2 separate regions of the Homo sapiens genome follow, and region 2 is linked to region 1. A link means that fine-mapping ties the variant in region 1 to the expression of a gene that starts in the linked region. Tissue or cell type: whole blood. Region 1 holds a variant in brackets; the other region holds the start of a gene. All regions are shown on one strand. Distances are between the middles of the regions.

Region 1 (4,162 bases):
AAAAAAGAAGTGTTTTCCATTTTAGTGAGGTAATATGGTCTGAATTATGTAACACCCCAGCAGTGTCTGGGGCAGCTTGCAGAAGTTAATTATTAGTATTTCTGCCAGTGAAACTTGAAAATTCCATGTTCACATGGGGTGGAATAGAGAAACTAAATAGCTTCATGTCAGTTCAGATCAGGTTTTGCTGCCCAATGAGTTGGAAAGAGAACTTGTAGTTTTAAAGCTTATATTTTGGAATTTTGCACCTGTGGTTTTATGTGGTTTTATTGCTGATTGGACCAGAGGGGCCACAATTTGCCAGGCTAATTTGAAAAAGAAGCCTGCAGCCTATTTGTTCCATATTTGTGTGGCATCTTCTAACTCCTCTATCTCTGGACCCTCTTTCACATTGCTTACCTTATGCTGCTGGACACCTCCATTAACTCATTTTTCTGGATCATTACCATATTTGGAGCTGTGTTTTGTCTTGTTTAGATACTGTTCTTCATGCAGGTGTCTGTGCCACACTGTTTTAATTGCTTTTGCTTTATAATATCTTATAGGGCTGGTCTTTTCTTCATTCTTCTTAATCAGAGCATTCCTAGTATTTTCCCATGTTTGTTCTTCTAGCTAAAGCTTCGGATCATTTTGGCAAATTCCAAAAAATGTCTTGTTGGACAGCTTTTGGTTGTGATTGCATTGGATTTATAATTTAATCTAGAGGACTAATGACAAAACAACTTTCAGCCATTGTGGCTAACATTTTATCATGTCCTGGAACGTCTTGGACATAGTCTAATGCTCCACCTCATGTACGCCCATCTGAATGACACAATGCCCAGGCTTTGGCTTACTTTGGCTCCCTTTGTGCAGGTGACATCTGAGTGCATAGCACCTACAACTTGCCAGCCCTGAAACAGCTGTCATAAGAATCTCACTTGTACTCACAACAGTTCTTCAGCTTAGATCATTGTCCTGTGTTACCTAATCAGGCTCAGAAAGATGAATTAGTGACCACAAAGTTAAACAACTAGTACATGGTGGCTGAGATTTAAGCCAGATCTTTGTGACTCCAAAGCTTATTTCCCTTTCACTCACTTGTGTTATTTCCCAACCCCTTTGTAATTAAAACCCTTCTGACTGGATACAGTTACTTCATTTACCAAAAGTCAAGGGGGTTTATTTTATTGCCTGAAGTTATGCATTTTGTTCATCTTAAATATAGTCTTTAGAAGTCTCACATGACCCTATTAATCACATTTCTATTCTGAAGTCACGATACACGGTGGTTCCTCTGCTTCCCAGACACTTGGCTATTTCTTTAAATTGCCAAGCCCATTGGGAGGAAACTTTAATTTCCTTAGAATTCCTCTATGTTTAGAGGTGGCTCATGCCTGTAATCCCAGCACTTTGGGAGGCTGAGGTGGGCAGATTGCTTGAGGTTAGGAGTTTGAGACCAGGCTGGCCAACATGGTGAAACCCCATCTCTACCAAAAAATACAAAAGTTAGCTGGGCATGGTGGCATGCACCTGTAATCCCAGCTACTCGGGAGGCTGAAGTAGGAGAATCGCTTGAACCCAGGAGGCGGAGGTTGCAGTGAGCTGTTATCATGCCACTGCACTCCAGCCTGGGTGACAGAGTGAGACCCTGTCTCCAAAAAAAAAAAGGAATTCTTCTGTGTTCAAAGTTTAAAACGGGCTACTATTCTAAAACTTGGTGATTTACAACAACCATTTTATTTTGCTTGTAATTTGTGGAGTCAGGAATTAGGGAAGGGCAGTTCTCATTTGGGGTCTCTCATGCAGGGTCAGCAAGATGGTAGCTGGGGCTGGAATCCTCTAAAGCCTTCTTCCTCGAATGTCTGGCAGCTGGGCTGCCTGACTCAAATGGCTGGGTGATGGAACTGCTAGAGCAAGCTGGCACCTCTTTCCACTTTCTTAGCAGCCTTTTCATGTGTGCTGCTGTGAGCTTCCTGAGAGCGTGGTGGCCTCAGAGTAGTTGGCTTCTTCCCTGTCAGTTCAAGGCTCCAAGAGCGAGTGTTTCCAGAGACCAAGGTGGAAGCTGCAAGGCCTATTATGACCTAACCTTGGAAGTCACATCGTGTCCCTTCCTCTGTCCTCTGTTGGTCAGAGCAGTCACAGAGCCTGCCCGAATTCAAAGAGAGAGAGCAGATACACCTCCGCCTCTCAGTGGAGGATTGCCAAAGAATTTGTGCCTGTCTTTTAAGTTGTTACAAGAAGATTTTTCTCTCCGTTAATTTATGAATTCCATGCAATCACAAAGGACTAGTAGAATTTTCTTCTTTAAATTCATGATAAGTCAGAAAAAAATGAGAACAACGACATGAGAGAATCTGGTGTATAATAAAGTCTGGGGCAAAGAGAGATTATTTAATAAGAGGTGTTGGGTTGGCCAGGTTAGAGTTAAACTTGAATCCTACCTTGCTTCTTATTTTAAAGTAAGTTCTGAGTGGATCACAGTTTGGAATGTAAAAAGCGAAACCATTAAGTTCTAGAAGAACACATGGATTAACTATCTTGCAGTGGGGAAGGTATTCTTATGTGAAGGGAAAAAAATGTTACAGAAGTCGTTAAAGGAAAAGTTAGAGAAGTTTGAT[T/G]TCAAAAGATTAAAAACCCTTATTAAAGATGTTCAGCTTTACCCACAACTAAGCAGCTAAGGCAGTGAGATAGTGTTTTATTCCATATTGGCATACATGAAAATTTAAGACCCAAAGTTGGTACAGTTGTAGGAAAATAGGCTCTGTCAATAACTATTCAGCTTTTTTGGAAAGCATTTTGGCAGTAACAATCAGATTTTATTTCTTTTTTTGTTTTGTTTTGTTTAAGAGATGGGGTCTCCCTATGTTGCCCAGGCTGGTCTCAAACTCCTGGGCTCAAGTGACCTTCCCACCTTGGCCTCCCAAAGTGCTGGGATTATAAGCATGAGCCACTGCACCTGGCCAGTCAGGTTTTAAAATGCATGTATCTTTGGATACAGCAGTCCCTTGCACAAGGATGTTCATCATGGCATCACTTATTTACAAACTGGAAACAATGAAAAATACCTCTTGATAGGAAATTGGTAAAATAAATTATGCTACATCCAACTTAGTGAATACCCTGCACCCACTGAAAACAGTGAGGTGGAACAGATGAACTTATGTAATGAGCGCCCAGACATCTGACTGTTTTGTTTTTAGTGACTGTCTTTGGAGAGAAGGACTAGATCTGAATGAGGAAGATATATACACACATGCACTTTTTTGAACCCACAGATGCAGAATATATTGTATGGATGCACATAACTTTTTTCCAACATTTTATTATGAAAATGTTCAAAATATAGGAAAGTTGAAAGATTTGTACATTGAACACCCATAGACCTACCATCTAAATTCTACAATTAGTATTATTACATTGCCTTATCACTATTTAGCCATCTGTTGGTCTGTATTATTGTGTTTGATGCACTTAAAAGTAAATTGCAAACGTCTTTACATTTCACCCCATGTCAGCATTATATCATTAGAGTTCAGTAGTTGTTGGGTTTTTTTTTCCCCCTTAAAGTAGATAATTTTTTAATCTGTCAAGGGAAAAGTTTCAGGAAACCTTTTCTTTGCTTGAAAGAGCTCAGTATAGGAGAGCGCAGTACAGCATGATAGAACTAGATGAGATCAGGATCTGGAGTCCCATGAACGAACGCCCGCCTATTTGAATCCTGGGTCTGCCCCTTAATACTGGCGGTACCTGGCCCAAGTTCCTTTACCCTTCTGAGCCAGCATGTTTCATCCATGAAAAGGGCTAGGATTGTTGTGAGGATTTAAGAAGACATAAAGTAACCAGCACAGAGTAGGTGTTCAGCAAATTGGAGATCACTTCTCAAACTACTGCGTGGCATGTGGGTGGCCCATAAGACGTGACTGAAACCTCTGAAATGGTCTTTCCCTTCAGAGCACTCTGCTATTTGGTCCTGAAGCAGTACACAGAAGCAGTGAAGGACTGCACAGAAGCCCTCAAGCTGGATGGAAAGAACGTGAAGGCATTCTACAGACGGGCTCAAGCCCACAAAGCACTCAAGGTAAAAAAAAATCCTGGCCAAAAGGTCCCAACATAGCTACAGAGATTTATGCCAGTGTCACCATTTACAGGGTGTAGCCAAGCTGAGACAATATCTGCAGCT
Region 2 (4,162 bases), 35 kb after region 1:
CTGAAAAATAAAGAAGGTATGTAAAAGTGCCTTGTTTGTAACTTTGTGCCTGACACAAAATAATGTCTCAAAACAGCAGCCGATGCCCAGCCTCCGGCCACTGCTGCAGCCTGTGTCTCTCCTGGGTGATACACGTGACCTGTTTCAGGGAGTCTGCTAGTGCAGAGACATGGAAGGGGGCTGTGGGGAACACAGTGGAGCAAGTTTCAGGAAGCCCGGATTCTCCACCTAGTCTTATCATAAATACCTGGGGCAAAACCCTTCTCTCTGCAGCACGGTTTCCAGGCCGAGTCCCACTTCATTCACAGGGCTTGGAGGAAGATGGGAAGAGGCAGGAGGTGGAGCAAAGCAGAACAAACAGAAAAGTGCCCAGGAATCCAGCCCAGTAAGGGGCGGGGAACAGGCCCGGCGGAACAACCCCTTCCCTAGCAAACCACCCACTCAGGCAACCACCAGGTTCACCCAGGCGACCTGGCGCAAGGGATCCCTCTAGTGGACGCCGGCCATTTTTTGGGTGAGTTTCTGGAGTCTTACATCAGAATGTTAAAGCCACTATTTTCGTTGTTGTTTCTTTTTTGTTTGTTGTTTTGTTTTGTGTTGAGATGGAGTCTCGCTCTGTTGCCCGGGCTGGAGTGCAATGGCGCAGTCTCGGCTCACTGCAACCTCTGCCTCCCGGATTCAAGCGATTCTCGTGCCTCAGCCTCCCCAGCAGTTGGGATTACAGGCGTCCGCCATCATGCCCAGCTATTTTTTGTATTTTTAGTAGAGAAAGGGTTTCGCTATGTTGGCCAGGCTGGTCTCGAACTCCTGACCTCAAGTGATCTGCCCACCTCGGCCTCCTAAGATGCTGGGATTACAGGCGTGAGCCACTGCGCCTGGCCTTATTTATTTATTTATTTATTTATTTATTTATTTATTTATTTATTTTAGGTTACCACTTAAGAGCGTTTACGAGGTAACAAGCAGTTACCATTCTTTATGCATAGACAGCAGTTCTCCATTCTTTATGTTATTGGAGAATACGCCTTAGCCCCATTTTGCAGATGAAAAGGTGCAGAGCGTGAAGGCTTGCCCAAGCTCACTCATCCTCTCCACTCTCAACAGAAGTGCAGGCAAACTCATCGGACAAGCTCTAATCAATGCTATCAGCTCTGAGAAAGCGGCCTTGCGGCCTGGAGGCAGCGGTTTTTCAGAGCCCGTGCAGGTAGAGGCGCCCAGTGTGGATCTCACGTCGCGCTGGGAAAGGCCTGAGCCCAAGGCTGGGTTCTCCTGCCTCCCCTGCTCACCAGCTGTGTTGCCTTGGGCATCTTCCTCACCAGGTGCTTTGAATCTCTCATCCTCACAAGCACTCTATAAGGCAGCTAGGACCCCCATTTTCCAGACACGCATCTGAAGCTCAGAATGGTCGAGTAACTTGCCCAGAGTCACACGGCTGCTGGGCTTCTATCCCTGGTCCGCCTGACCCCCACCCCCACCCCCACAAAGCCTGTATCTGTTTTCACTCGACCCTAATCTCTCTCCTCTGTAGAGGAATAGCAGTAAACCACACTAATTACCAATTCCCGTCTCAGGGGCCAGGCCTCTGCCAACGCCCTGTTATCTTTGAGCCTCAGTTTCCCCGGCTGCAAAGTGTAAGATGAAAGCGCAAGCGGCCCAGTTCCGGCTTCTGTCTGTCCGCCTGCTTGTCCGTCGGTCCTTCCCCTCCCGCCCCATCCCCGGGGCTCACCGTCCGCGGGCTGCTGGAAGTTGATGTAGGCGTAGCCCAGCGAGCGCCGGGTGGCTACATCGCGGCACACGCGGATGGACAGGATGGGGCCGGCGGGAGAGAACTTCTCATAGAGCATGGCCTCGGTCACGTCGGGGTGCAGATCGCCCACGTAAAGCGAGGCAAGCGGGTAGCCAGAACCGCTGGCGTTCATGGTGGGCAGGGGGCCGGGGCTGCGGGGCAAGCAGGAGCCGGGTCACCCAGCAGCCCCGCGCTCACCCGGGCGGAAGCCCTCCTTCCTGGGCGCGGGCCCGCCCCTTCCCTTTACCGCCCCCGCGTCCCTGCGCACCAATCGTGGGCGCGCTCGGACGCCCCTCCCCCGGGATCCCTCCTGGGCCCACCCCCCACCTGCGAGCACTTGGGGATCTAAAAGCTACAGGTGGGGACACCTCTGACCCCGCCCTGGGAGGCGGAAAAAGCCTTCAACCTGGCCTTGAGCAGGGCTGCTGGGACTTGAGTGGAGCTCTCAAAACCCCCAGCTCTTTTGAAAGAGCCGAGGACTGGGACGGAAAGGACGCAGGGGACTGAGTTCTAACCCCGGAACAGATGATCATCTTTCTGAACCCGTTTCCCTTCTCTGTAAAATGGGAATGATTCCCTCCTGACAAGAATGAAAGGAGACCCAAACCGCGCTTTTTGCGTTTCACACACAAACGGAATTCCGAACAGGCCACTGTTTCAAAGCTTGTGTAGAGAATTTTACCCTGCTCCATTGAAGATGTCTTCCTCCAGAGAGCCTGATCCAGTCCCACCGTTTCGCACCAAGGATGGAAATGGCTTTGAGACATGAGAACTGGAGACCACTAAGGCCTTTCTTGGTACTGGCTCATATTACCAAGACCCCTTTTCCTGGGATATTCCCTGTCCCTCTGCTAAGCCATTACACATCCATTACACCAGGGAGGTTCACTGAGTTACTTGTGGCTCAGCCTAAATGCGGACAATTGGGAACTAATAGCAGAGCAAGACCTAAACAGAGCAAGACTGTGAATCTGAGCTTGCAGCGTCAATCTGTGGTATAGGGACATTAAAAACAACACAAAAACAAAACAACTACTCCACTGAGCACCAATACTTCACTTTTCCTCTGATAGGACTTTCCTGGTCTCACTGATCCAACAGAGCAGGTAGGCCCCCACTGACTTTTGGTTGAGTGTGGCTTCAACAGGTGGAACAGCTCCTAAACTAGGGACAGAAGGTGCCCATCTGGCTGTCCAGCCTCAGAGTAGCAAGGAAGCACTAATTCTAATCTTGGGCTAAAAAAGACCCCTCTATCCTGATATTTTTCTCTCCTTGTGGTAATGTGGATGTTTTCAGAAGGGGCAAATCCTGTGAGGAACCAGCTCTGCAGGCCACCATACAGTGTGAGGACAGGTGAGACGCCAGCTTGGTGATGACCAAGACTTATGCAACCATAGGTTACCTATTTCACTGGCTTGGTTGTATCTCAGAGTTAAAAAATGGGGAAGGGATGGTGGGCTCGAATACAATGCAAAATAACTGTCCATACCAAATCTTAGAAGTCACTAAAGAGGACCTAATACCTGCATGGTTTGTTGTGGAAGGTAGAGAGGTATCAAGTAACGGGTGTAAAGAGGCTGTTTAATTAATGGTAATTTCTTCCCCTGGATAACACCTTGACTTCTGGTCCTAAATAATGAAATAAAACTGTTTGCCTATTTTTAAAGAAAACAGAGTTAAAAATAAGTGTGATCAGAATAGTTAGCTAGGTCTGGTAACAACAGAGATGGTGGTGACACATCAATTCACAGGCAACTAACTGATAAAATTTTTATTTCACTTTTGAATTTTTACACTTTTCCTGATTATTCTGTGTAAGGTGAAACTAGAACTGTTTAAAAGACATACACAAATCTAGTACATCAATAACCGGGGATTTTTCTTTTTTGCTATACTATTTTCACAACCACGGGTGTGCTTGCTAGGCAATATAACCATCACAGAAGCAAACGTTAGGCAGAATACTGGTAAGAAAAAACAAAGCAAGAAAAGAGCTACCAGATATACAGACAGGCTTGGTTCCACATTCACTACTGCATTTTCAAGCGCCAAGTATTAACTGCACATTTTTGTTCAGCTAGAAAGGAGGGATTTTTTTTTTTGTTTTTTTCTTTTTTTTTGGTTTGTTTTAAATCAGTGCATAAATTTTTCTTTTCTCATTTCAGCAGATGGACAAACAGATGGACTCTACAGCTAAGTGGAATATCAAAGGTAGAGGGGTGATTCTGTGAGACTGATAGGCCTGACTATTCTCAATTCTCCCCACTGCAGTGTTCACGCAACTTCCCTGAATATAGGGTCTCCTTAAACACATCTGAGCACTGACCTGGATGAGTGCACTTGGGAGACCTGGTGACAGGCACAAAAAGCATGATC

What was found. PIP is the estimated chance that this variant, and not a neighbour inherited with it, causes the effect.
Region 2: it holds the start of PABPC1L, and the variant in region 1 is fine-mapped to the expression of PABPC1L in whole blood (TOPMed, PIP above 0.99).

Annotation. Positions count from the first base shown.
Region 1 is chr20:44,943,351-44,947,512 of GRCh38, reverse strand. It overlaps TOMM34 (translocase of outer mitochondrial membrane 34), which reads left to right. Exons shown (of 7, transcript NM_006809.5): 6 at 3,934-4,060. Among named protein-coding and RNA genes, the nearest start is that of TOMM34, 15 kb to the left of the region's middle. The variant T/G (reference allele first, on the strand shown) is at 2,601.
Region 2 is chr20:44,907,901-44,912,062 of GRCh38, reverse strand. PABPC1L (poly(A) binding protein cytoplasmic 1 like) reads right to left here and starts at 2,003. Exons shown (of 15, transcript NM_001372179.1): 1 at 1,727-2,003. The coding sequence starts at 1,919. It overlaps YWHAB (tyrosine 3-monooxygenase/tryptophan 5-monooxygenase activation protein beta), which reads right to left. Exons shown (of 6, transcript NM_139323.4): 6 at 3,531-4,162. RefSeq lists a silencer at 1,820-2,149.